4 linked regions of the Homo sapiens genome follow. The protein of the gene in region 1 interacts with the protein of each later gene in a pairwise test. Each region holds a gene or a part of one and is shown in the gene's direction. Other genes may lie near its edges.

Region 1 (7,025 bases):
TCGGCCTCCCAAAGTGCTGGGATTATAGTTGTGAGCCACCGCACCTGGCCTTTTTTACTTTAAAAAAAATTTTTTTGTGTGAGACAGAGTCTCACTCTGTTGCCCAGGCTGGTGTGCAGTGGTACGGTCTTGGCTCACTGCAACCTGTGCCTCCTGGATTCAAATGATTCTTGTGCCTCAGCCTCACGAGTAGCTGGGATTACAGGTTCACACCCTCACAACTGGCTAACTTTTTTTTTTTTTCCTTACTTTTTACTAAGTAATACCATGTTGGCCAGGCTGGTCTAAAACTCCTGGCCTCAGGTGAGCCACTCGCCTCAGCCTCCCAAAGTGCTGGGATTACAGGTGTGAGCCACTACGCTGGCCTTAACTTTTTTTTTTTACATTCATGATATATATTCAGTAATAATATCTAACTTCCTTATTATGAACAGTTGGGGGAAAAAAGGAAGGAGAAAGACGAAAGAGGAAGGAGGAGGTAGACAAAGAACAAACCATTAGCAGTCACTCTTCAGTATTTTTGTGATTTAGGTATTATTTGCTTCATGAAATAGATGTGATCTCTGGGAAGGTGATAGCAGAATCCTCCTGATTTTTCTGATTTTTCAGATTTTGTCAAGTGCATGCTCCTGTGTAGTAGTTAAGAGAAAGATGAAGAAATGCAAAGGAAAATACATGCGCTAATATACACAAACAGCAACTTTGGTGGGTTATACTTCCCTCTTGTGGCTTCTTCAGATATTACCATTCTAATTATTATTTTTTTTTTTTTGAGACGGAGTCCAGCTCAGCTGCCCAGGCTGGAATGCAGTGGTGCGATCTTGGCTCACTGCAACCACCGTCTCCCAGGTTCAAGTGATTCTCCCATCTCAGCCTCCTGAGTAGCTGGGATTACAGGCACCCTCCATCATGGCTGACTAATTTTTGTATTTTAGTAGAGACAGGGTTTTACCATATTGGCCAGGCTGGTCTTGAACTCCTCACCTCAGGTGATCTGATTGCCTTGGCCTCCCAAAGTGCTAGGATTACAGGCGTGAGCCACCGCGCCCAGCCTTCCATTCTAATTTTATTTAGACACTTCCTTAAAACAGAGTAAAGGAAAGGATCATGACAACTACTTCTATTCTTCAATGGTAAATTTTTCATAAATATTTGAGTTAGTCAACTAATATTGTTAATAAGATCCTGTGTCACTTGATAATGATAGCTTAATACCGGCTTTTAAAGAAGTCATGTAAATTAGCTTGTGCTGCCTATTATTATGTCTAAGAAAATGGTTTTATGGCTGGGCAAGGTGGTTCACACCTGTAATCCCAGCAACTTGAGTGGCTGAGGCAGATGGATCACCTGAGGTCAGGAGTTTGAGACCAGTCTGGCCAACATGGGGAAATCTCATCTCTACTAAAAATACAAAAATTAGCTGGGCATGGTGGTATGTGCCTGTAATCCCAGTTACTAGGGAGGCTGATGCAGGAGAATTGCTTGAACCCGGGAGGCGGAGGTTGTAGTGAGCTGAGATCATACCATTGCACAACAGCCTGGGCGACAGAGTGATACTCTATCTCAGAAAAGAAAAGAAAAGAAAAGAAAATAGTTTCATTTCACATAAATCTTTACATGAATTTATCACAACTGTTAAGTTTAACTTTCCATGTGCTGTTTTTTCAGAGATGTTCTTAAGATTATCAATGAAACAATTCAGAAAAATAATTTTTGCTTAGTGTTTAGTATAGTATACTGTGTATAAATCCTTGATTGCAGATAGTTTTAGTAGGCCATCCAGGCCTTTCCTTGGCTTCAGAAAAATAAATAGCTATGCTCCTGAAAAGGAATAGAAAGTTCCTAAGGCTTGAGATGCTACCACTTCTGTCATTAGTTCCATTTCAAAAACCTCAACTGAAAACTAAGAGGCAAAAAAGTGTTTATTCACATGACCGCCTGAGGACAAACAGGAGGAAGTTCGTGTGTAAAACTTCAGATGGCTGTGATGTCACTCAGATGTGTACCAATGCAGCCATGGTAAGTAGCTTGGCTTTATGCTTTTTGTTTTTTCCCCAGGAGATTAACGAGACCAGAAGGAAGCATGAAACGCGCTTGGTAGAGGTGGATTCTGGGCGTCAAATTGAGTATGAGTACAAGCTGGCGCAAGCCCTTCATGAGATGAGAGAGCAACATGATGCCCAAGTGAGGCTGTATAAGGAGGAGCTGGAGCAGACTTACCATGCCAAAGTGAGCTCTCTTCAGAAGATTCTTTTGAACACTTAAAATCATTACTTCACAATTCCCATGATGAACATGGCTTTATGTTTATTTTGTTCTAGTTTTTAAAAATGATTCCCCTAGTCTCCATGAAATATATAGAAAATTGATTTTTTCAAAAAAGTGCAGTTTTCTATAAACTAAATGTTATTAAAAATTACTAGAAGAATGTAGGGTTGTTGCAATTTTATTAGAGGTTAGGTTTTGTCTTTTTGTCCCATTGATCATTCGTACTATGCCATAGTAGTTGAACCCAAACCATGTGAAATAACTTTCTTCCAATAACAAGTACTGATCATGCTGTCCTACATAAACATCCATTTAGTAATGAATGAATGTCAGACTGCATTAGATCTCACTTTCATGTCATCATTGTGCATAGATTGTGACTACCACACTTCCGGCTTTTTTGCATAAGGGCCAAATGGAAAGTCTCTGCTATTTCTTCTTCTGTCACTATTATTCACTTAAAAAAATATTGTAGAAACTTCCCACTTATATTAGCTGACCTTACAAGAATTCATAAAAATCACCAACTAGTACAGGCTTTCCCTGGTAAATGATTTTGCCTTGTGTTTTAAATGTTACATGATTTGATTAAAAAGACTTTTTTGTGGTTGACTTAGAATATTAGAGTCACAGAGTTATTGAAAATTTTCATTGCATGGCTTTAAACTGTTCATGTTGCTTTTTATCTATTGTATGAAGTAGCAGTTAGTGAAAGTGAAAGATCTTATTATAAGCAGTAACTTCAGTTGTATAACATTTATCTAATATCACACATTGAGCTATACAGTGAAGGAGCTAAAGTAAGGATCCGTCACAGACTGTGGCCTCACAGGGAGCCAGGGAGGAGACACAGGAGCATGTCCCTGAGACACACATACACAATAGTGTTATGGGATTTGTATTTTACTCAAGGAGTTTTTTTTGCTTCTGAAAGGAAGTGTTTCTATCTGGTTTGAACGAATCTATAAACTAGTATTTTCTGCTTGTTGGTTTACATTCTGTATTGGATTTGGTGGGTTAGGGATATGTGATGTTTCTTTTCTTACAGACACCACCACAGTCAAGTTGCTATTGCCCAGTCTTCTTATTATCAGTGTTATCTTAGACATTAAAGGTTTAATAGATGAAATATTGAAGTAATAAGCTTTGGGTAAAGGCCTAGGTATATTAGCATTCTTAAAGCTCATTATTTAGGAAGTGACTCTAAAAGTCACACAGAATTACCATCATTCACACCATATCAGCAAACTTCATGATGCTTTTCCTGTGTTTCATCTACCAGTTACCAGCAGGACTTAGGTTTGAAATGCCTTGAGGTGAATCATGCTTCCTTTTTTGTTTCAGTTCTAGATAAGACTGACTATGCTTTGCTTCTTCTTTTAGCTTGAGAATGCCAGACTGTCATCAGAGATGAATACTTCTACTGTCAACAGTGCCAGGGAAGAACTGATGGAAAGCCGCATGAGAATTGAGAGCCTTTCATCCCAGCTTTCTAATCTACAGAAAGAGGTAAATAATCATCTTTCTGTAAGAAGTTAGACTTGAAGGCTACCTTCACCACGGGCACCTACCTGCTTTGCTTGGGCTGATGTCACTCCTCCCTCTGTTTGTTACAGAGGATGGTGTCATCCTGTGCTTTCGTCTTCACAGTACTTTTCTAGATTCGTTCATTTTGCATTGCATAAACATCCTGTGAGCAGATACTATTGTTCCTAATTAGTAGATTACACAGAGCTAAGGGACTTGCCCTTGAGGAAGGAGCCTGCTAGTTTATTCACTGTACTTACCCTAGGACCCGGATCTTCCGACCTGTCTAACAGCTTCATCTCTACAGAGTTATTCTCAACACCTTCCTTTTTTATATCATTTGAAAACCAAAATGAAGAAAAACATGCAAAAATTCTTTGTGGGTGGTGAATGCTTTGTGTTTCTAGACAAATTCTTTAGTGCTTAAAGTATATAACAATTAGGATCCAGGAAAGTAGCTTTAATTTGCATATTCCGATAAGAATTTAGTGACTCATTCATTCGTTGGTACGCCTAAGTGACAAATGGCATTATTGCCGGCTGTGTTGACTGGCTGCCTATCAGGGTGTGATGGTGTGCTTCAGGTGCTGCTTAAGCAGGCATGGACACTACTTCAGATCAGTTTTAGCCTAGGGTGATGTCAGTGTGGACACAAAGTACATATACTCCATATACTGCATTCAGAATGATTCAGCAATTAACTCGTCACCTTAATTATTTTGGAAATAACTTCCGCTTCTATTTTCCTCAAGGGAGGAAATCTTGTTTTGAATTTTCCACATGAGAATAAACTTTATTTTACTTTTTTTTTTTTTTTTTTTTTTTTCTTTTTGAGATGGAGTCTCACTCTGTCGCCCAGGCTGGAGTGCAGTGGTACGATCTCGGCTCACTGTGAGCTCCGCCTCCCGGGTTCACGCCATTCTCCTGCCTCAGCCTCCCAAGTAGCTGGGACTACAAGTGCGTGCCACCACGCCCGGCTAATTTTTGTATTTTTAGTAGAGACGGGGTTTCACCGTGTTAGCCAGGATGGTCTCGATCTCCTGACCTCATGATCCACCCGCCTCGGCTTCCCAGAGTGCTGGGATTACAGGCGTGAGCCACCGTGCCCAGCCTATTTTACTCTTGATTGGGCTTTTCTTCCTTCCTTTTTCTTTTTACCATTTTTAGTAAAATATTTTTCTAATTATAAAACTGATGACCTCTGTTGCAGGAACTTAGAAATAAAGCAGAAAATGAGTCCCATAAAATGGGGTGATATAAAATAATTTAGTTAACACAGGGGCTTTTACACTGTCTATCATGTGCTTTGTTACTTACGGCACAAATTTTTAAATTATTTTAAACCTATTTTGTGCTGATAGTGTTTTGAAGATTTTCATTTAATAGCAGAGCTGGAAGCACCTCTGAGTTCATTCCATGTAACCACAGATCTAGGTGAGTTTAATGATTTGCCCGTTGCCCAGAGGCTGCAGACTGATAAATGGGTTTCTCTACTCCTTCCCAGTTTTTCCTTTTATAACTCATTTTCTTCAAAGAAGATTTACTTTTAGAAATTTAACAGATAATCTTTTTTTCCATTGCACCATCTGTCTTAGTCCTTTTGGGCTGCTATAACAAACTACTATTGACTTGGTAGCTTATAAACAACAGATATGTCAGAAATTATTTCTCACAGTTTTGGAGGCTGGGAAGTCCAAGATCAAGGCACTGGCAGATTGGATATCTGCCTGGTGAGGGCTGTTCCCCGATTTATAGATGGTGCCTTCTTGCTGTGTCCTCACATGGTTAAAGGGTGAATGAGCACCCTTGGCCCTATATTATAAGGGCATGAATCCCATTCACTAGGGCTTTCCTCTCATGATCTAATTACCACTCAAAGGCCCTACCTCTTAATATCATCACCTTGAGGGTTAGGATTTAAACATGAAATTTGTGGGAACACAAACACACAGACTGTATCACTGTCTTTGTTTTTCTTGTTGTTTTTTTTTCTTCTGAGACAGAATTTCGTTCTTGTTGCCCAGGCTGTAGTGCAATGGCGCAATCTCGGCTCACTGCAACCTCCGCCTCCCAGGTTTAAGCAATTCCCCTGCCTTAGCTTCCCTAGTAGCTGGGATTACCGGCATGCACCACCACACCCTGCTAATTTTGTATTTTTGGTAGAGACAGGGTTTCTCCATGTTGGTCAGGCCGGTCTTGAACTCCTGACCTTAGGTGATCCGCCCGCCTCAGCCTCCCAAAGTGTTGGGATTATAGGCGTGAGCCACTGCACCTGGCCTATATCAACTGTCTTAACAGGTACTTTTCCAAAAATGGGCCTCTCTGTTCTTGTACTGAGTTGGCATTTACTACTCTTTTCCATTTACTAATAGTAAGTTGTCTACTAGTTACTGTCTATCCCTCAATTTTATTTTTTCCTACTGTATTATTATTTTTTTGGCTGCTGCCTAATCCATTTGATTTACTTAGTACAGATCTTCTCTTGAGGTTGATCTTCACTGTGCTTTGGATGAGGAGACTGTTATTAATAAGTAGTAGTGGGCTCTGAAACTTAGTAGCTATGTGTTCTAACCTAGGTTCAAGGCTGTTTCCCTGTTAATTGAATTCCCATTTTTGCAAGTTGGTTTTTTTTTTTTTTTGAGACAGAATTTTGCTTTTGTTGCCCAAGCTGGAGTGCAATGGCACTATCTCAGCTCACTGCAACTTCTGCTTCCCAGGTTCAAGTGATTCTCCTGCCTCAGCCTCCTGAGTAGCTGGGATTACAGGCACGCGCTACCACGCCCAGCTAATTCTTTGTATTTTTAGTAGAAATGGGGTGCACCATGTTAGCCAGGTTGGTTTCAAACTCCTGACTTCAGGTACTCTGCCTACCTTGGCCTCCCAAAATGGAAGGGATTACAGGCGTGAGCTGCTGCCTTAAATGCTGGGATTACAGGTGTAAGCCACTGTGCCTGGCTGCAAGTTTTTTTTGTTAACCTTATCTTAGTGGTTTTTAAGTAATGTTAGGCAGTGCACTGGGGGTTTCCAGGAGCTAACTCCTTAGCAGATAGGAGACGAGCAATCCCTTTAGCCAAAATAGTTTTTAATTTCTCTGGGGTGAATCTTTCCTCTGTTCATTATTGGTAACAGACTTTATGGTAAACAGTATATTTTGAGGAATATTTTTATTAGTTGATAAATTTTAGCCTTAGAAAAATCATCAAAAATAAAAATGTTATCTTTTTGAATAT
Region 2 (7,025 bases), on another chromosome or scaffold:
GCCTTTCTTAGTAGCTGGAGCTTCATCTTTCAGTGAAAAAAATTTAGGGGGTTTTATGTTATAAACTTTGTTATAAATTTTATATTGGTCTTCAGTTTCAGAAACACTGTTGCCTCAAAGGGAAGGAACTAATGTTTAATAAGCTCAGTGAAATAAGTAGAGATTTACTCAGTTTTATAGATTGGGAAACTGTCTCGGAGAAGATAACACAGCCAGTAAGCCACAAAGCCAGGAGTAAGATTCTTACCCATTTTGCAGCACATAAATCTATAAGACTTAAGAAGTTAAGAAATAAAGTTAGTCCTATTCTGGTACAGTTCAACATGAAAGTTCTTCAGTGGAGCAACAAACCCTGACCAAGGTCTTGAAGGGGGTTTTTAGCCTAGAGTCAGGTAACTTCCTCTTTCCAGCTCCATCTCAGGTACCTCTCCCTCATCGTAGCTTGTCTTTATGAATGTCAGCTTTTTGTTTGTTGTAGACCAAACTAATGCATTCATTTAATTCTAACATCTAATCTAAGGTATCTTGGGTTATCTCCATTTACACTTATAAACTGAGGCTTTGAGAAGATTAGGTGACTAGTCCAAGGCTGGTATTCTGGATCCTTTGGGCACTGGAGACACTAACACAGCCTGCCTTCACATGCCCACAAGTACGGAACCTGCCGTATTTCACTGCCTCTTAAGTGTACTCTCAGTCTGTATCCTACTAGCTCAGTCGTATATCCTACACTATTTCTACTATGCCAAACTTCATTACCCTTAACAGACCTTTGCAGTGATTTCCCTGCCACTAGGTGCCCTGTAGGGGTGATATTTGTAGCTCTGGAGATTGCTTTATTCTGACCCTCTAGCAGAGACTACAACCTCATGAGTCTTGGCAGACACTACTTGTCTTTTCACCATTACTACTACTGTGCTAACTGGGAATCTGGCCACCCTTCCTTACCCCAAGGGGTGGGTCTTGATATAAACTCTAAACCAATCATTGTAACTCTAGCTCCCTAGACAGTGATTGATTTAGGCATGGGCATATGATGCAGTTCTTGCTAATTAGATGGGAAGGGAAGCCTGGGGAACTTGTGGAGAAGCCTTCCTTATTTAAAAGAGACTTGCCAGCTTTTATTTTATTATTTTTTGCCAGTTTGTATTTTAACCCAGGTTGCACCAAAATGTGTGAACCACAAACAAAGACAGAGATGGGAAAGCTATAATAATAATAATACCCAACACTTGTATAGAACTTGCTATGTGCTAGGTACTCTTCTAAGTAGAGGCATACCTCAGAGCTAAGGCAAGTTTGGTTCCAGACCACTGCAATAAAGCAAATATAATAAAGCAAGTCACATGAATTTTTCTGTTTTCCAATGCATATAAAAGTTATCTTTATACTATACTGTAGTCTCTTAAGTGTGCAATAATATGTAGAGTAAAAGTACCTCTTTTATTTATTTATTTATTTATTTGAGACAGGCTGGCCCTGTCTGTCACCCAGGCTGGAGTGCAATGGCGTGATCTCGGCTCACTGCAACCTCCGCTTCCTGGGTTCAAACCATTCTCCTGCCTCAGCCTCCTGAGTAGCTGGGATTACAGGTGCCCACCACCACACCCAGCTAATTTTTGTATTTTTAGTAGAGACGGAGTTTTACCATGTTGGACAGGCTGGTCTTGAACTCCTGACCTCATGATCTGCCTGCCTCAGCCTCCCAAAGTGCTGGGATTATAGGCATGCATGAGCCACCATGCCCAGCCAAAAGTACATATCTTAATTAAGAAATCCTTATTGTGAAAAATTGCCATTTGGTGAGCTGTAATCTTTGCTGGTGGAGGGTCTTACCTTGATGTTGATGGCTGCTGAGACTGATCAGGGTGGTGATTGTCTGGGGTGGCAGTAACAACCTATGAAATTTGCCACATCAATTGATTCTTCCTTTCACCACAGATTTCTCTGTAATGTGATACTGTTTGATAACATTTCTCTCTGCCATAGACCTTTCAAAATTAGAGTCAGTACTCTCAAACCCTGCCACTGCTTTATCAACTAAGTTTATGTAATGTTCTAAATCTGCCGGTCTTGGTGGCTCACGCCTATGATGCCAGCACTTTGAGAGGATGAGGTGGGAGGACTGCTTGAGCTCAAGAGTTTCAGACCAGCCTGGGCAACATAGTGAGACCCCATCTCTAAAAAAACATTTAAAAAATTAGCTGGGTGTGGTGGCGCGTGACTGTAGTCCCAGCTACTCAGGAAACTGAAGTGGGAGAATCACTTGAACCTGGGAGGTTGAGGTTGCAGTGAGATGATTGTGCCATTGCACACCAGCCTGGGCGACAGAGCAAGATCTTGTCTCAAAAAAACCCCAAAAATCCTTTGTTGTCATTTCATGTATGTGTGTATGTATGTATGTATATATGTTTTTTTTATTTATTAAGACAGGGTCTCACTCTGTCACACAGGCTGGAATGCAGTGGTGCTATCAACAGCTCACTACAGCCTTGAATTCCCAGGCTCAAGCAATCCTCCTACTTCAGCCTCCCGAGTAGCTGGGACTACAGGCATGCACCACCATGCCCGGCTAATTTTTTAAATTGTTTTTAAAGAGTGTTGCCTAAGCCTGTCTTGAACTGGGCTCAAGTGATCTTCCTGCCTTAGCCTCCCAAAGTGTTGGGATTACAGGTGTGAGCCACCTTGCCCAGCCTATTGTCTTATCAACAGGATTAACGGCATTTTCACAAGGAGTAGATTCCATCTCAAGAAACCATTTGTTTGCCCACCCGTAAGAATAGCTGCTCATCCATTCAAGTTTGATCGTGAGATTGCAGCAATTCAATCATATTTTCAGTTGTCTAGTTATCACATTTTCACTTCTAGTTATCTTGCTGTTTCCACCCCATCTGCAGTAACTTGCTCCATTGAAGTCTTGAACCTCTTAAAGTCATCCGTGAGGGTTGGTATCAACTTCTTCCAAACTCTTATTTATGATATTTTGACTTCTTATGAATCGTGAATGTTTTTATAAGACCTGAAAGTTGAAATCACTCCTTAATTCATACAGAATGGATGGATTCTGTATAGCTACAGAATGGATGTTGTATTAACAGGTGGGAAAACAACATTAGGCCGGCGCAATGGCTCACACCTGTAACCCCAGCAATTTGGGAGGCCGAGGCGGGCAGACCACTTGAGGTCAGGAGTTCGAGACCAGCCTGGCCAATGTGGTGAAACCTTGTCTCTACTAGAAATACAAAAAATTAGCCTGGTGTGGTGGTGCACACCTATAATCCCAGCTACTGTGGAGGCTGAGGCAAGAGAATTGTTTGAACCTGGGAGGTGGAGGTTGCAGTGAGCTGAGATCACGCCACAGCACTCCAGCCTGGGCGACAAGAACGAAACTCTGTCTCAAAAAAAAAAATATATATATATATATATATATTCAGTAAATCAAGCTGTAAACAGATGTGCTGTCATCCAGGCTTTATTCCATTTATAAAGCATAAACACAGTGGATTCAGCATACGTTTTAAGCTTCTGAGATTTTCAGAATAGTAATTGAGCATTGACTTCAACTTAAAGGCCCCAGCTGCATTAGCCCATAACAAGAGAGTCAGCCTGTCATTTGAAGCTTTGAAGCCAGGCATTGACTTCTCTCTAGCTATGAAAGTCCTAGATGACATCTTCCTCCAATGGAAAGCTGTTTCTTCTACATTGAAAATCTGTTGGCTAGTGTAGCCACTTTCATTAATGATCTTAGCTTGATCTTCTGGATAACTTGCTGTAGCTTCTGCATCAGCACATGCTGCTTCACCTTGCACTTTTTTGAGACAGTGTCTCACTCTGTCACCCAGACTGGAGTGCAGTGGCACGATCTCGCCTCACTGCAGCCTCTGTCTCCCGGGTTCAAGTAATTATGGTGCCTCAGTCTCCTAAGTAGCTGGGATTATAGGTGTGTGCCACCACGCCCAGAACATTTATGTATTTTTATAGAGACAGTGTTTCGCCGTGTTGGCCAGGCTGGTCTCGAACTCCTGACCTCAAGTGATCCGCCCACCTCAGCCTCCCAAAGTGCTGGGATTATAGGCATGAGCCACCACACCCGGCTTCACTTTTTTTTTTGAGACGGAGTTTCTCTCTGTTGCCCAGGCTGGAATGCAGTGGCGCGACCTCAGCTCACTACAAGCTCGGCCTCCCGGGTTCACGCCATTCTCCTGCCTCAGCCTCCCGAGTAGCTGGGACCACAGGCGCCCGCTACCACGCCCGGCTAATTTTTTTTTGTATTTTTAGTAGAGATGGGATTTCACCATGTTAGCCAGGATGGTCTCGATCTCCTGACCTCGTGATCCGCCCATCTCAACCTTCCAAAGTGCTGGGATTACAAGGCGTGAGCCACTGTGCCCAACTTTTTTTTTTAAGATAGGGTTTTTGTCTGTCACCCAGGCTGGGGTGCAGTGGCAAGATAGCACACTGCAACCTCTAATTCCTGGGCTCAAGGGATCCCCCCACGTCAGCCTTCTAAGTAGCTGGGGACTACAGGTGTGTGCCACCACACTCAGCCAATTTTAAATTTTTGTGAGACAGTGTGTCACCATGTTGCCCAGGCTGGTCTTCAAGTCCTGTCCTCAAGTGATCCTTATTCCTCAGCCTCCAAAGCCACTGGGATTACAAGCATGAGTCACTGAGTTTGGCCTCCACATTGATGGCTTCTTTCCTTAAACCCTTTCTTTTTGAGACGGAGTCTCACTGTCGCCCAGGCTGGAGTGCAGTGCCATGATCTCAGCTCACTGCAACCTCTTCCTCCCAGATTCAAGCGATTCTCCTGCCTCAGCCTCCCAGGTAGCCAGGATAACAGGTGCCCGCCACCACATCTGGCTAATTTTTGTATTTTTAGTAGAGATGGGGTTTCACCATGTTGGCCAAGTTGGTCTCGAACTCCTGACCTCAGGTGATCCACCTGCCTCAGCCTCCCAAAGTCTTGGGATTACAGGCATAAGCCACTGCGCTCGGCTCCTTAAACCTTATGAACCAGTCTCGTTAGAGCCTGGCTCTGGATTAGGCTTTGGTTTAAGGCAGTATTGTGGCTGATTTGATCTTCTGTCAAAACCACTAAAAGTTTATCCATATTGGCAATAAGGCTGTTTTTTCTTTTCTTTTCTTTTTTTTTTTTTTGAGACAGAGGCTGGAGTGCAGTGGCCCTATCTTGGCTCACTGCAAGCTCCGCCTCCCGGGTTCATGCCATTCTCCTGCCTCAGCCTCCTGAGTAGCGCCCGGCCGGTTGTTTTTTTTAAACATTTGTGTGTTCACTGGACTAGTACTTTTCATTTCCTTCAAGATCTTTTCCTGGCCAGGTGCAGTGGCTCATGCCTGTAATCCTAGCACTTTGGGAGGCCCAGGCAGGCGGATCACCTGAGGTCAGGAGTTCAAGATCAGCCTGACTAACATGGAGAAACCCTGTCTCTACTAAAAATACAAAATTAGCCGGGTGTGGTGGCACATGCCTGCAATTCTAGCTATTTGGGAGGCTGAGGCAGAAGAATCGCTTGAACCCAGGAGGTGGAGGTTTCGGTGAGCTGAGATCGCACCATTACACTCCAGACTTGGAAACTCCTTCACAACAAAAAAAAAGAACTTTTCCTTTGCATTCACAGCTTTGCTAACTGGCGCAAGAGGCTTAGCTTTCACCATATCTTGGCTTTTTGACATGCCTTCCTCACTAAGCTTAATCATTTCTAGCTTTTGACTTAATGTGGAGACATGCAACTGCCCCTTTCACTTGAACAAATAGAGGCCATTGTAGGGTTATTAATTAGCCTCATTTCAATATTGTTGTATCTCAGGGAATAGGGTGGGAGAGAGACTGTGGAATGGCTTGTTGGTGGAGCAGTCAGATCATACACAGTATTTATCAGTTAAGTTCTCCATCTTATATGACCATGGCTCATGGCACCCCAAAACAGTTGCAATACTAGCATCAAATATCACTGATCACAGATCACCATAACAGATAAAACAAAAAACAAAAGTTTGAAATATTACGAGAATTACCAAAATGTGGCACAAAGTGAACACATGCTGCTGGAAAAATGGCACCAGTAGACTTGCTTAACATAGGATTGCCACAAACCTTCAATTTGTTTTTTTTTGTTTTTTTTTTTTGAGACGGAGTTTCACTCTGTCACCCAGGCTGGAGTGCAGTGGCACGATCTTGGCTCACTGCAACCTCCACCCTCCGGGTTCAAATGATTCTCCTTCGTCAGCCTCCTGAGTAGCTGGGACTACAGGCGCCTGCCACCACGCCCGGCTAACTTTTTGTATTTTTAGTAGAGATGGGGTTTTACCATCTTGGCCAGGCTGGTCTTGAACTCCTGACCTTGTGATCCACCCGCCTCGGCCTCCCAAAGTGCTGGGATTACAGGCGTGAGCCACTGCGCCCGGCCCAATTTGTTTTTTTTTTTTTAAAAAAAACACACATTGGCTGGGTATGCTGGCTGACGCCTATAATCCCAGCACTTTGGGAGGCTAAGGCAGGTGAAACTCTTGAGCTCAGCAGTTTGAGACCAGCCTGGGCAACATAGTGAGACCCTGTCTCAAGACAAAAACAATAACAACAATAAAAAAACACACAGTATCGGTGAATCACAGTAAAATGAGATATGCCTGTACTTTATATATTCATTTAATTCTCAGATTCTCATGTTTTAGTTGAGAAAACCAAAGGATGGAGAGGTTTCAGTAACTTGGGCAAATTCATAGCTAATACATGGAAGAGACGCTTACTCAGTATGATTCTAATCAAAATATGGGCTGTTTGTACATAAGCATTCCTGAAGTAGCTAAAGCAATCTCTTCCCCACCCATCTTTTCCTATAGAAATCTCACCTGTTTTTCTTTTCTTTTTTTTAATTTGATATGGAGTTTCGCTCTTGTTGCCCAGGCTGGAGTGCAGTGGCACAATCTCCGCTCACCGCAACCTCTGCCTCCCAGTTCAAACTATTCTCCTGCCTCAGCCTCCTGAGTAACTGGGATTACAGGCA
Region 3 (7,018 bases), about 52 Mb from region 1:
TTTAGTGCCTGCAGGTAAGATTGTCTTTCTACATTGCCATGGCTGATATTATTAGCTAACTAGTTAGCTGACTGGCTAATAGTTTCAATCTAGAAATCCCTGGGCTACCTCAGTTATTAAAATGTTCTCCTGTGGCTCACGCTTGTAATCCCAGCACTTTGGGAGGCCAAGGCGGGTGGATCACAAGGTCAGGAGTTCGAGACCAGCCTGACCAACATGGTGAAACACCATCTCTACTAAAAATACAAAAAATTAACCGGGCATAGTGGTGCGTGCCTGCAATCCCAGCTACTCAGGAGGCTGAGGCAGGAGAATTGCTTGAACCTAAGAGGCGGAGATTGCAGTGAGCAGAGATCACACCACTGCACTCTAGCCTGGGCGTCACAGTGAGACTCAGTCTCAAAAAAAAAAAAATCCCTGTGATTTTATGTATTTAAAACATATGATGGATTCTAAATCTACCCATTTATGCCGAGACCAGCTCAGCTGGGGAGACCCTGGCCCAGGGGCGCTAGAGGAATTAAAGACACACACAGAAATACAGAGGTGTGGAGTGGTAAATCAGGGGTCTTACAGCCTTCAGAGCTGAGAGCCTCAAACAGAGATTTACCCACATATTTATTGACAGCAAGCCAGTGATAAGCATTGTTTCTATAGATTATAGATTAACTAAAAGTATTCCTTACAGGAAACAAGGGATGGGCTGAAATAAAGGGATGGGCTCTGGCTAGTTATCTGTAGCAGGGGCATGTCCAGGCACAGGTCGCTCATGCTATCGTTTGTGGTTTAAGAACGCCTTTAAGCGGTTTTCCGCCCTGGGTGGGCCAGGTGTTCCTTGCCCTCATTCTGGTAAACCCACAACCTTCCAGCGTGGGCGTCACGGCCATCACGAACATGTCACAGTGGTGCAAAGATTTTGTTTATGGCCAGTTTTGGGGCCAGTTGATGGCGAGATTTTGGGGGGGCCTGTTCCCAACATATTTATGTCTTATTGGAGTGTCAAAGATGATGATAAATCTTTCTAAGGAAATGTGTCTTTTCCACGCGCTAAATAAACAGAATGAAAACTTGTAATTATGCCCTGGAACTGGGGGACGGGACTTGGAGAGCAATTACACTTAAATGATGTAAAAATGAAAAATGTGTTTTTCAAAAACTAACAGATTATAAAATTTTGCTTAGTATATACCAGAGGAAGTTTTTACAAGTTTTCTTTCTAACTTGTAAACTTGTAACTAGTTTTAATTCTTCCTTCCTGTCTGGGAAAATACTAGATCTAAGAAATTATTTAAACTTGAAAGTATAGGACATTTAGTATGTTTTAGGGCTTCAAAAGCAAAATCTATCCATATGGTATAGGATTTTGTGCACATTTAAGGCAGTATGGAATTCTGGTTAAGGGAGTGTGCTCTTGAGCCAACATGCTAGGATTACTATCTGTGTGACCATGGGCAAATTGCTTAGTTTCTCTGTGTGCCTCAAGACTCCTCTTAGGTAAACTGGGGGTAACAGTGTATACCTGCAAGGATGGTAAGAGGATTAAGTGAATTAATTTCCATAAAGAAGTCTGTAGAGTGCCTGGCAATTTGTTAGCTGTCAAAAACATCAGTTATGATTTTAGCTATTAAGAATTCCTCTTCCCCAGTGCAACTAAAGAGCTCTTTTCTGGGTCATGTGTATTAGTAACCTCCAAAATCCAGGGTTGTGGCAAGCTTCTTTTACTTAAGATGGTTCCACTCCTCTTTAAACATAGAGGAAAAATACAATCAGAACGAACTCTTAACATGTTTCCTTTGCTAATAACAAAGTAATAATTAAAGCAAGCATTGCAAAAACAAAAACCAAAGCAATAATCCTTTTACTCTAAAAACGGTTCAGAAAAAAGCCTCAAAGCATATTTCAAAATATTGTGGTAACAATTTTCAGCATATACTAATCTGACAAAGGCTCATGTTTTTAGTTGTTGTTCTTTGCCCACTAAGATAAGCAAAATTTATCTCAGCCAAAGAGGGAAGTCAATGGTGATTTAAAAAGAAAAAACCAAAAACTCTCAAAAATAGTGTCATTTGCAAGTAGGGAAAAGAGAATCAGGCCTGGCGCAGTGGCTCACGCCTGTAATCCCAGCACTTTGGGAGGCCGAGGCGGGCGGATCGCTTGAGCTCAGAAGTTCAGGACCAGCCTGGGCAGCATGGCGAAACTCCGTCTCTACAAAAATTAGCGAGGTGCGTTGGTGTGCACCTCTGTCCCAGCTCTTCCGGAGGCTGACGCCGGAGAATCGCTTGAGCTTGGGAGGCAGAGGTTGCAGTGAGTCGAGATCGCGCCATTGCATTCCAGCCTGCCTAGGCTGTGGGAGTGAAACCCTGTCTCAAAAAAAAAAAAAAAAAAAAAAAAAAAAATTGGACCTTTTCTTTTATAGGTCTGGGTGAATGTAGTTCTGTCTCCTACCAGAATAGCCAGACATCTGGGAGCCAGGCCTCCCTGACCCAGGCACAAATACCCGCATACTTCTAAAACAATAGCTAAGAGTCAATCACACCCAGGCATTTCAAATATTATCAACAAGTTGTATTGGTTAGCTTTACACTAAGGCCTGAGGCTTCAACATCTGTAGGGCATAGTCTGGTAGCCAAAGCTTCCCCAAATGGCAATTGTTTGGGATTACCCTGGGGACTCCTACTTACACATAGCTCTAGAAATGTAAATACAAGTCATATAATTTCATTCATCACTGGCTATGGGTAGAACCCAACTACCCAAAATTCCTGCTCTATTAAATCTAATTCATTAAGTTTCATTAAAATGGTAAATGATGTGTAATAGTAAAGATTTTGGCTAATTAAATATTATACAAATGAAACAATAGATTCTTATATGGCAGAAAAGCTTTTTTTAAAAATCAGGGTCAAATATATCTATATCAACAAGCATTCTTTGAAGTATTTTTTGATCTTGCTAATTTTGCTAATCATTAGTAAATTCGTGAAAGTTGGTATTGTGATTGCTAAATATTTCCCAGGAATGAAAGAAGCAATTTTCAACTTTTCTGGATGAGCTGAACATAATACTACGGTTCTTGGATGATGAGTAAAAGAAAGTCTTGACATTAATACTTAGATACAATATTGTTTCTCAATACAGTTATTAAATATATTTAGACTACAATACGCATTACCTTAAAGACAATTTATCATGTTTTAAATGCTGGAGGGCTAATTTTCAGTAGGAGTGTGTAATTAGCAAAGGCGCCAGAGGCCATAAGACGGTAGAATAGAGCTGGGAGAGGCACGGGAGGAAAGCCGGATGGAACCCTGTTGTCTTTCTGGGTCAGGGTTATTCTGTACCGGTTAAACGGTGAAAGAGAAAAGGTCAGCGCAGGAATGTGGTATTTCCCTGACATCTCCAGATGAAAGTCCGGGCTCTAGGACTTCTGTAGACTGTGAAAGCAGCCCACGATTCTAACTTGCATGCACCTAAGTGGCAGTAGGTTTAGGATGAAAGTGGTGGGGCGGAGGCCGGCGGTCCTCGCCCGTGCCCTCTGCACCCCTGTCCCGAGGCCGGGATGGCCGCGCCCACTCTGGGTAAATTTCAGGAGGGCCTACGCGGGGCTGGAGAACTCCACCGGGCTATGCGAACAGAATCCTGCGAAGGTCGGCATTAAAGGAATACGCAAAATCAGCGTTGCAGCCCCCGCGGCTTAACCGCATCTATTTTTATATCTAAGCCAAGGTCACTCTTTAATACCAGGCCATTGCCCTGAGCTGGGCGTCGCGCTGCCGGGTGACGGCGGCCGGGGCGGAGAGAGGGGGCGCGGGTGGCGAGGCGGGGGCCGCGTGACGCCCCCGGGCTGGCCAAGCCCGCACCTGCCGGGCCGGCGCCTGAAAGCCGGGGCTGGAGGGAGGCAGGGCGGCGTCCCAGGCTCCGAGGAGGGGCCGCTCCGCGCTGGCGGGCGGGGGGATTCGCGGTGGGCGCGGGCGCGGAGCGGAAGCGAAGGCTGGAGGCGCTGCGGCGCTAGTGCGTCACGTCGTCGGAGGGCACGGTGGGCCGCGGCCGACCCGCGACGAGGAGCCGGGCGTCCGGGGCGAGCGGGAGGCAGCCGCACTCGCCCTGGCAGCCGCGAGCTGTGCGGCCTGGGACCGGCCGGAGGTCGCCAGCGAGCAGCCGCCGGCTCCATTCATTCGCGCGGCTCCGCCTCCTTTCCCGGGCTCTTCCAGCGGCTCCCGGGGCGCGTCTGAGGTGAGTGCGCTCCCTCTCCCCGGCGCGGACCGCTGGGTGAGGCCGAGACGGCCGCGCCGGGCCCCGCGCCCCCGCCAGCACCAGACCCGCGGACACCGAGCGGCGACGCGGGCCACCGGCTGTGGGCGGCCCCTGCGGGCTGGGCCTGGCGCAGACCAGTGCGGGCCGCCTGGACCCGGGGCTCGCGTCCAGCTGGCGGCGGTCTGCGGGGATCCCGTAGGGCGTGTGGCGCCCCCAGGTGCGCCGGCCTCCGCCTCGGCGCCACCATTTTGTGTGAGGGAATGCCCGTCTTCGCTCGCCTCCGCCGCGGGCCGGTTCGCAGCTGCGGCTTGCCGCCCCCTCCCCTCGCCCTCTCCCCACCTGGATGCTTGGCGTGCGAGCTGATTGCTTTGGCTTGGGGAGACGCGGACTCGGGGAGGTGTGGAACTTCAGCGTTTAGACTCGGTTCACCCGACCAGGTGGCCTCCAGAGATGCTCTGACCGCCTTCCTTTACCTGTAACTACTTTTGGAACAGATATTGTATGATTCTCCCTCCTCTGGAATGCTGGTCGTTGCAGTTTTGTCCTAATTGTGTTCTCAGCTCTCCATTATGCCATTTTTCAAGAGGCCTGTGCCTCAGGAGGTGAAGCCTTGAACCCTGGGTGGTTTATGGCTCGGGGGTCTGGATTACACTGACTCCCATGACTGTCCTTGGGGAGAAAGGATGAAGCATCTCACTGGCTTTTCAGCGTCTGGGAAGCGGCGTGGGTATCGTATCGGGTGGATTCGAAGATAACCACCTGATGCAGGTCACCTTCCCCCGCTGGGAGAGCCGTTCCTAACGTAAATTAAAACGTGTGTACGGGTTTTTGGGGGATTGGGACCGGAGGGACATATTTCTAAAAAATTTCCAGAAGGGAAAGTTTTCATTGTGATTCTCACAGAACTGTGACACAATTTGTCATTTTCAAGGTTCCTGAGAATTTGGGAATTCTTTTAATTCGTTGGCTTCTTGCGAATTACTACTTACGAACTGAGCAGATTATACCCAAGCCATTTATATTTTGTCATTGCATCACAGACAGGGATTACAATCGGGAGTGCTGGCTGTTGCATAATGCACACATTTGGGCCCTGGAGGGAATTCACCGAAGTGGATCTGGGTTTGGTGTGCCATGCGTTTTTATTTTTTACACAGGATGTACAGATGATCTTTGCAAACTACGTCCCTTATCGTGCTATAAAGTGTTTACAAGAGGAAAGATTTTTATTGACTAGTATGGACCAGACTAAAATTTTTAGTGTTTTAGTTTTGCTTGTTTTGGAGGAAAGGCAAGGAATGAGATGGTGAGAGGCACCTGGGAAAAGTCCGTTTATCCTAACACTTGAAGCGCAAACAAAGATAAAACATGATCGTCTTTCACAGAAATCTTGTAGCTATTATAGTGGACTTTTCTCTAAGTTAATGATGGGGATCTGTTTGGGGAACTTAGAAATAGCTTATGTGAGTAGCAACATTGACCTTCCACATGAGTGACCATAAATTAAGGTGTTTTACCTGTGGATTTTAGGTTCTAAAAGGCTTCAAATTAGTCTGACCTTTGAGATAGTATTCATGTCATTACAAGTGGTATTTATTTAATAAAGATGGGATATAGGCCGGGTGCGGTGGCTCACACCTGTTTTCCCAACACTTTGGGAGGCCAGAGCGGGTGGATCACGAGGTCAGGAGTTCAAGACCAGCCTGGCCAACATGGTGAAACCCCGTCTCTACTAAAAATACAAAATTAGCCGGGTGTGGTGGCACATGCCTGTAATCCCAGCTACTCGGGAGGCTGAGGCACAAGAATCACTTGAACCCAGGAGGCAGAGGTTGCGGTGAGCCGAGATCGTGCCCTTGCACTCCAGCCTGGGCAACAACAGTGAAACACCAAGATGGAATATATATCCAACAAAGGATTTTGATTTGGAGAAAACAAAATAATTAAGTGCTTTTGAGGTAAAGTTTCCATGCCATCCTCCTTATTAAATTAAACTATTTATTTTCTGTTTTGTTGAAGACTCTCCCACTAATTTTGTCTTCAAACAAGTGATTACATATTGTGTACCATCCCTGGCAAAAATATCGTGCTTCCCATTATAGATATGTTTATTCTATAGGGAGAATTATGGAGGCGAGAAGAACCTTGGACATTTAGAGATGAGTCTTGGTTTAGGGAATTTAAGTAAGCAAAGATTGCCTGCTAGAGATTGCAGGTGACCTGTCTGGACCTATCCTAGGCCTATGGGGAATGAGATTTTTTTTTTTCTAGCAAATAACAGTGCTGAGTCAAACACAACTCTTAAACTTTTACATTGATTCTGTTATTATACAAGTCAGAGAAGTTCACTGAATTGGTAAGATTGTATTGACTCCAGTTTGGAAGTGATCTTGGTGTGCTTTTGTCTTTGAAGTTGCTTGAGATTTTGAGCATTATTTACCAATGGTTGAGAAATTGAAAAGAAAAATCGAATATTTTTCTCTATTAGCTCCTACCTAAATACTCCGTTTTAAGCCTTAAGCATACTATGTTCAGTCATCTGCCTAAAAATTCAGTAAGATTTACTTTTTAAAGGTAAGTACAACATAAGAGAGTTGAGTATTCATGTAGTGGTTCCCACAATATCTGTCAAGGATTCTGTATAAAGGATTGTTGTTTGGGTAGGAAGTTAAACAAAACTTGTATGTTCCTTCCCCTAAGATTTTATGATTCTAAGTGAAAAAAGGAATTGTGTGATTATTGTATTTAAGACGATAGTCTCTTC
Region 4 (7,852 bases), on another chromosome or scaffold:
GTGACAATTCTGAAGGGCCATCCCAGCTTCTGCACTTCCTATAAGATTGTCTGAAGTCTCTGTTGCTAATAATGCAACATAATTTATCTCTCTGTAGAATCCTGCTTCCTCACTCCTGTTATTATTCCCAAAGAGCACTCTGCAATAAATATCAGGTGGCAAATCTTGAATCTCAGTCTGTTTCCCTGTGTTCCGTGAAAGGGCTGTATATGCAAAGCAACTGCCAAATGTTGAAGGAGCCAAGAACCCAAAAAGGCAGAAAAATCAAGTTAATTGGTCTTGGGTGATTTATTAGGGGAACTTACAGACAGAAGCGTGGTCTTGGGTGGCCGCAAGACAGGTAGATCTCCATACCACTAAACCCAGGGCTAACTCTCTAAACCCAGGGCTTATATCTTAGGGAAAATATACGTACTCTGGAAGGAATGTTTAGGTGGCTACAGGTGTCACAGCCTGTGATTTCTGTAGCAGCATCAAGGATTGTTTTGGAGGAAACTTACGGTGAATAGGTGTTCCTACTTAAAGAGTAATACATCAACTAGACATTTTGGGAGCATTCCTGGACTTGGGGTTAGTCAGAAATGCTAATGGCAGATTAGCATTTCAAATAAAGTCACTCTGTCCCCACATCCTGGATCAGACCTATCGATAGCAGCAAGGATACATGCTGTTGTGTGGAATGACTTGTGCTACAGAAGTGAGGGAAATTTAACAATAATTTACAACTTCAACAATTAGGATGGTCATGTGTCCCAGTTTGCCCAGGACAGTCATCCCAAAAAAGTTACTATTAGTACCCCATTCCACTATCAAAAATGTCCTGGTTAACACAAATTATATGATCCTGCTACTGATAACTTTGAGTCTTAATCTAGTTCTCATTAAGATAAACTACTTAGGTACGAATCACAGCTACTTCTTACTAGCCCTGTGACAGTGGAAAGTTTACTTACACATTCATCTGTGCCTCAGTGTCCCCTATCTCATGTTGTCATTGTAAAGTTAAGTATATCAAATTTTAATTTTGCAGTGATCAACAGGATCTCAGAAGAAGTATGTTCTTACTTTGATAACTTACCTGCTTCCTTATTCCATTTGGGCTGCCATAACAAAAATACCAAAAATGGGTTGACTTATAAACAGTAAACATTTACAGACAGTCCCCGACTTATGATGGTTTGACCTATGACATTCCAACTTTACAATGGTGCAAAAGTGATACACATTAATAATAAACCATACTTCAAATTTTGAATTTTGATTCAAAAATTCTTTATAACTTTATTCTGACATAGGCTTTGTGTTACATGACTTTGCCCAATTGTAGCCTAAGTGTTATGACTATGTTTACAGTAGTCTAGGATAAGCTATAAGGCTCAATAGGTTAGGTGTATTAAATGCATTTTTGACTTACAATATTTTTCAACTTACTGATGGGTTTGTTGGGAAATAACCCCATTGTAAGTTGAGGATCATCTGTATTCCTCACAGTTTTGGAGGCCAGAAGTCCAAGATCAAGGCTCAGACAAATTTAGTGTCTGATGATAGCCGGCTTCCTCATAGACAGTACCTCTACACTCACATAGTGGATAGGCAAGGCATTTCCTTTGACCTTGTTTTACAAGAGCACTAATCCCATCATTAGAACTCCATCCCCATGATGTAATCACCTCTCAAAGGCCCCACTTCTTAGTACCATCACTTTGAGGGTTAGGTTTCAACACATGAATTTGAGAGGGACAAACATATTCAGACCATAGCATCTGCTTAAGTAAAAAGAAATTGGTGAGCCAATGGGTTAGAACCCTTTCTTTTCCATCATGGCTTGTGGAGGAGGTAAGCTAATAGGGCAATACGCTCTCTACTGTTGAGGCAGCAGCTTTTGGGATAAAAGGACCACTGAGAAGTGGATTTTATTTTGACAGGCAGATTGGGAAAGATGCCATAGAAGGTCAGGTCTTGGTAGGAAGTTGCTGTGGTTGGCATTGCATACAACTAATGAAGTCAGCATCTTGATACCAATCCTATTCCTCCAGTTCTTTCCTGGATATGAAAAGCCGGGACCTAGACCCTGCTGAGCAGAGGTCTAAAAGACACCATTATCATCTCTTCTGCCATATCTATCCAGAGGGAAGGCATGTCCAGATAGCAGGAATCTTCTTCAGGAGTATAGAAACAAGTGCAGACCATCTAAATGAGAACAAGCAAAGCCAAATTTATTTGGAGCTTACAATAGCAAGGGAGTCAGCCATCATCACTTGCATTTGTCAGAGACTCAACGGCAGGCAGAGGAGTGAGAAAGCTTTAGAGTGGAAAAAAGGGAAAGCTTCAGGTATGCCAATTCAAGGCTGTTGGCATGGAGAAGCTGCAGGTGGGCTAACTAAAAGCAGGGCATCCTATGTAATTATTTAGGGGTGGGTAGATATTTGGCTCTCTCTAGCTGGCCTTGAGTTGGAAGCCCTGACAAAACTTACAGAAGCTGTAAGTTATTAATCACGTCCTGGCCATTTGGGGTAGATTGCTACAAGGGTTATTGCTTGGCTTCCTGGACTGGTTGCTAAATATAGTAATCTGATTTCTTGGACTGGTTACTGGACATAGTAGGTTGCCTTCCTGGACTGGTTGTTGAAGGTTGTAGGTTAGTGTTCTATTTGTATATATTCTCTGGCCATTGTCTATTTGAATTCAGTCTCCCAGGACGGAGGAGTAGGGAGGAAATAAGAAAGGGATAGGGTGGCCAGGTGATTAAGGCAAATAAACTCCTATCAGTACTCCAATAGTCCTGTTGTCAGAGGCGTTTGAACCAGAGTGACTCCAACTTGAACAGGTGCTGGGTAAAACGAGGCTGAGACCTACTGAGCTGCATTCCCAGGAGGTTAGGCATTCTTAGTCACAGAAGATTGGAGGTCCACGCAAGATACAGGTCACAAAGACCCTGCTGATAAACAGGATGTCGTAAAGAAGACAGGCCAAACCCACCAAAACCAAGATGAAGACAAAAGTGACCTCTGGTCATCCTCACTTCTCATTATACGTGAATTATAATGCATTAGCATGCTAAAAGACACTCCCACCAGCACCATGACAGTTTACAAATGCCATGGCAACATCCAGAAGTCATACAGTCTAAAAGAGGGTAGAACCCTAAGTTCCAAAAATTGCCTGCCCCCTTCCTTGAAAACTCATGAATAATCCACCCCTTGTTTAACATATAATTAAGAAATAACTGGCTGGGCGCGGTGGCTCACGCCTGTAATCCCAGCACTTTGGGAGGCCGAGCCAGGAGGATCACCAGGTCAGTAGATTGAGACCATCCTGGCTAACACGGTGAAACCCTGTCTCTACTAAAAATACAATAAATTTCCAGCTACTCGGGAGGCTGAGGCAGGAGAATGGCGTGAACCCGGGAGGCGGAGCTTGCAGTGAGCCGAGATGGCGCCACTGCACTCCAGCCTGGGCGACAGAGCAAGACTCCGTGTCAAAACAAACAAACAACACACAAAAAAACTATATACTCAGTCCAGCAGCCCAAGCCACTGCTCTGCCTATGGAGTAGCCATTCTTTTGTTTCTTTACTTCTTTAATAAACTTGCTTTCACTTCACTATATGGACTCATGATTGGCAACGCTTTCTGGTAACACTGCCCAGGTTTCCTTTGTCAAGCGTGCCTTTCTCAGCCCTACATACCCACAGTTAAATAATCCCTTCTCTCCTGTTTATTTTTCAACTATTGAAAATAGCAAACATCTTAAAACAATTTGTCTTCATGTTTTTCCTCTTAAAAAATTGCAAACGTCTTCTGGGCAGGATTTATGTATTGTTTATCTTATTTATTCTCTTCCTATTGCATCTGGAACACAGTCTGTTTTCAATACCGTTTGTTGAACTCCAGGGTAGATTACAGGGCTGTGTATTATAATCTACAGTACTTTAACTGAAGTTACTCGTTTATTGGTGACTACATTGCTGTCAAAAATACACTCATGTGGCTGGGTGTGGTGGCTCATGCCTGTAATCCCAACACTTTGGGAGGCTGAGGCGGGCGGATCAGGAGGTCAAGAGATCAAGACCATCCTGGCCAACACGGTGAAACCTGGTCTCTACTAAAAATACAAAAATTAGCTGGGCGTGGTGGCGCATGCCTGTAGTCCCAGCTACTTGGGAGGCTGAGGCAGGAGAATCGCTTGAACCTGGGAGGCGGAGGTTGCAGTGAGCCGAGATCGCATCACTGCACTCCAGCCTGGTGACAGCGCCAGACTCCGTCTCAAAAAAAACCCCCCAAAAACAGAAAAACAAAAACAAAAAACCGCAGATGTTATAGAATATAAAATTATAAATGACAAAAAGCTTGAAATAAAACGAGCAGAGCATATAAAAGTTAATGAAGCTGAAGAAAACGTGAGCTTCTCCGTACACTTAACAAGGCTGCGATTTTTACCAACTTTTTTGCACTGTTGTAGCCCCAATAATGTATCTAAAATGGTACTTGACACAGTTTATATCCTTAAGAATGTATGCATGCACGCACGCGTGAAGAATGAATGAATGAGGGGTCGTCCCTTTGCACACACGGAGGTCTACGGGCCGCAGAGTACCTACAGCATGGCCACCGCAAGCGCAACTAAAATCCAGGGCTTGTCGCAGGCACAGGCTCCTCCTTCGGTGGGTGGGACGGCGGCGCGCACTTTCTCTACGCCCCACTGCTAGGATGTGCGGCCACCACTCCTCCTCCGCCGCCGCCGCCGCCGCCGCCGCCGCCGCCGCGTCGAGTGCAAGGGCTTCTGGGAGCCGAGCCTCGGGGTCTCGGAGAAGGGGCGCAGGTGGCCGCCATCTTGGATTGCGAACTGGGTCGCTACGCTTCACGCCAGGGGCGGAGTGGCGGCCCTTCTGTTACCCGCCACACACGTCGCCGCTGGGGACTGGGAAATCAGGGCATCGGAGAGTGCCACATTAATGGGTAAGTTGGAGTGAACACGGGCTAGGTTGGGGGAGCCTCGGTTTTGGTCCCTTTGGGAACTACTAGTTCCTGGGGCCACGGTTTTTATTTACCCCTTACTTTGCGAAGGTCTCTGGAACCTGGCGGTGCCGGGTGTTTCTCGTGTTTTCCCCAGGGCGACAGCGGTCGCGGGGGCGTGGCAGCCGGACCTTTCCCTTGCGGACGCGAAGGCGTGGTGAGTTCAGATTCTTTCAGCAGGTCCTCTGGAGTGATGGGCAGCTGGTCTCATCTTCGCCGCCCCGCCTCACCGTTTCTCGGTAGTTCTTTTCAGTTAATGGAATTGCCAAACGTTGCCACTCATACCTGGTACCCATCAGCTGTGTCCAGCAGCTTATGGAAATTCCACAGTGTCCAAAGAAGAGACAGGTTCCATCCCGAGGGCCTCCTAGCCTCGCCCTCTCCATCCGCCAGCCTCCCTCCTCCACCTGCGTGCAGGTGCCTCTAGTGCTCATTCCCGACGACAAGGCAAGCCTGGGTTCCACGCTTCTAATAGTCGGGCAGCTCCGTTCTAAGATGAAAACTTAGGTTTTCATCGATAATACATAGGAGATGGAAGTATTTGAAAGCTGTGAAATGACAGTGATATGTCTAAAGAATATGACATTGGCGGCGGGCGCGGTGGCTCACGCCTGTAATCCCAGCACTTTGGGAGGCGGAGGCGGGCGGATCACGAGGTCAGGAGATCGAGACCATCCTGGCTAACACGGTGAAACCTCGTCTCTACCAAAAATACAAAAAATACAAAATAAAATACAAAATAATAAATACAAAAAAAATACCAAAAATACAAAAAAAGGAAAAATTAGCCTGGCATGGTGGTGGGCGCCTGTAGTCCCAGCGACTCGGGAGGCTGAAGCAGGAGAACGGTGTGAACCCGGGCGGCGGAGCTTGCAGTGAGCCGAGAGCGCCATTGCACTCCAGCCCGGGCGACAGAGCGAGACTCTGTCTCAAAAAACAAACAAAAGAATATGACACTGGCATTTACTTTTGAGCTTTTTAGACATGTTTTTTAAAAAAGACAAAAACACTAATGATTTATCTCTCAATTACAACACCCAATAATGATGACTCATATTCTGTACAAAAGTGGTTTTCTTGGTAGGTCAGGAGCAACTCTCTCCCTCCGACCTAAGTACTGCTTGTTTGGTTGTGAGGGCTCTCTAGTTGGCACTTCCCCCGCTTTGTGCAGTCTTTTACTTTCACTAATGAGGCGCCCAGCCCCATGGAAATGAAGGCTTTACTGGCATAAGAAATAATGTCGATTGATATTAAAGAAAATCATAAGTTCAGATTCCAGTTATTTGCCCAACTTAAACATGGTTTTTCTAAGAGCCGTTGAAAGCTTATGAATGAAAAAAATTCCTCTATTCTGTAACTTTAAAGTGCTGGAATAACATTTCTAAATAAAAATATTTAATTTTTATGAGACCTCAGCCTTTGAAGTGCAGCCTTTAAATTTATTTTTCAGTGAACGAAACAATCCCATTGGATGGGGCCCCTTTAGAGATAATTTCCCTTGGTTTATTGTCCCCTTTAAAGCAACTGCAGTGAGGATGGATGCAGTGTTAAATCTGAAGCCGGAAGTCAGTACTATTGAAGAAAAAGGAACAAGTGATATCTGAGTTGTTGGTGCTGTATTTTATTTGGCTAAAATTTATGCTGAACAGTTACAATGTGGTTGCTTGGATTAATGGTCTCATAAGTAGCGCCTTTGTATGTGTGCGTGGTGGGGCACAAGGTGATCCAGTCAGATGTGGTAAGAAAATATTAGAACTTCTATTTGTTTACCTTTTAAAACTTTCATTCTTAAAAATTTCTGTTTTTTGTGAATTTTATGCTAGAGTAGTATATTAGAATAGTAATGCATGTATAGAAATAAATATATTGAGGATGAATGCACAAATGTATTTTACGAATGTAGGATGTGTGATTGAAAACGTTTAGAGCCAGTGGCCTAGAATATGCTACATATATAGGTGATAAATACTTTAAGAGTTTTATTTCCATGAGCATTTTATTTTACTTAAATATTTTATATATATTGAGCGTAATTCAACAACTAATACTGTGGTCAGTTTGCACTGTAATGAACTCTGATCTCTAATTTTTTCCTTTCAAGAGTCTAGCTTTTTATAGATATAAAATAGAGAATAATACCAAACATTGTTATTAGTAAAGTTATGTTGAGCGGTTTCCCTCTTTTATTTATTATTTTTTTTTGAGATGGAGTCTCACTCTGTGGCCCAGGCTGGAGTGCAGTGGCATGATCTTGGCTCACTGCAAGTTCCGCCTCCCGGGGTTCATGCCAGGAGTCTCCCTCCCGGGGTCTCCTGCCTCAGCCTCCTGAGTAGCTGGGACTACAGGTGCCCACCACCACGCCCGGCTAATTTTTTGTATTTTTAATAGAGATGGGGTTTCACTGTGTTAGCCAAAATGGTCTCGATCTCCTGACCTTGTGATCCACCTGCCTCGGCCTCCCAAAGTGCTGGGATTACAGGCGTGAGCCACCGTGCCCGGCCTTTTTTTTTTTTTTTTTTTTTTTTTTTTTTTTTTGACAGAGTCTTGCTCTGTCTCCCAGGCTGGAGTCCAGGCTGGAGCGATCTTGGCTCACTGCAACCTCTGCCTCCCGAGTTCAAGCAATTCTCCTGCCTCAGCCTCCAGAGTAGCTGGGATTACAGGCTTCTACCAGCATGCCCAGCTGATTTTTGTATTTTCAGTAGAGACAGGGTTTCACTATATTGGCCAGGCCGGTCTTGAACTCCTGACCTCAAGCGATCGACTCTCCTTGGCCTTCTAAAGTGCTAGGTTTACAGGTGTGAGCTACCCCGCCCGGCCATATTGAGCAGTTTCTAATG

What was found.
Region 2: the proteins of LMNB1 (region 1) and KPNA6 interact in binary tests that used the Homo sapiens proteins (3 or more experiments, as listed by UniProt).
Region 3: the proteins of LMNB1 (region 1) and FAM169A interact in binary tests that used the Homo sapiens proteins (3 or more experiments, as listed by UniProt).
Region 4: the proteins of LMNB1 (region 1) and KPNA5 interact in binary tests that used the Homo sapiens proteins (3 or more experiments, as listed by UniProt).

The regions. Positions count from the first base shown.
Region 1 is NC_000005.10:126,808,122-126,815,146, forward strand, and holds part of LMNB1 (lamin-B1), read left to right. Parts: intron 1-2,058; coding exon 2,059-2,229; intron 2,230-3,651; coding exon 3,652-3,777; intron 3,778-7,025. UniProt on the Homo sapiens protein: Lamins are intermediate filament proteins that assemble into a filamentous meshwork, and which constitute the major components of the nuclear lamina, a fibrous layer on the nucleoplasmic side of the inner nuclear membrane.
Region 2 is NC_000001.11:32,111,044-32,118,068, forward strand, and holds part of KPNA6 (importin subunit alpha-7), read left to right. Parts: intron 1-7,025. UniProt on the Homo sapiens protein: Functions in nuclear protein import as an adapter protein for nuclear receptor KPNB1. Binds specifically and directly to substrates containing either a simple or bipartite NLS motif.
Region 3 is NC_000005.10:74,863,380-74,870,397, reverse strand, and holds the start of FAM169A (soluble lamin-associated protein of 75 kDa), read left to right. Parts: upstream 1-4,010; 5' UTR 4,011-4,233; exon of another isoform or gene 4,234-5,068; intron 5,069-7,018.
Region 4 is NC_000006.12:116,676,381-116,684,232, forward strand, and holds the start of KPNA5 (importin subunit alpha-6), read left to right. Parts: upstream 1-4,830; 5' UTR 4,831-4,954; coding exon 4,955-4,958; intron 4,959-5,066; exon of another isoform or gene 5,067-5,112; coding exon of another isoform or gene 5,113-5,172; intron 5,173-7,852. UniProt on the Homo sapiens protein: Functions in nuclear protein import as an adapter protein for nuclear receptor KPNB1. Binds specifically and directly to substrates containing either a simple or bipartite NLS motif.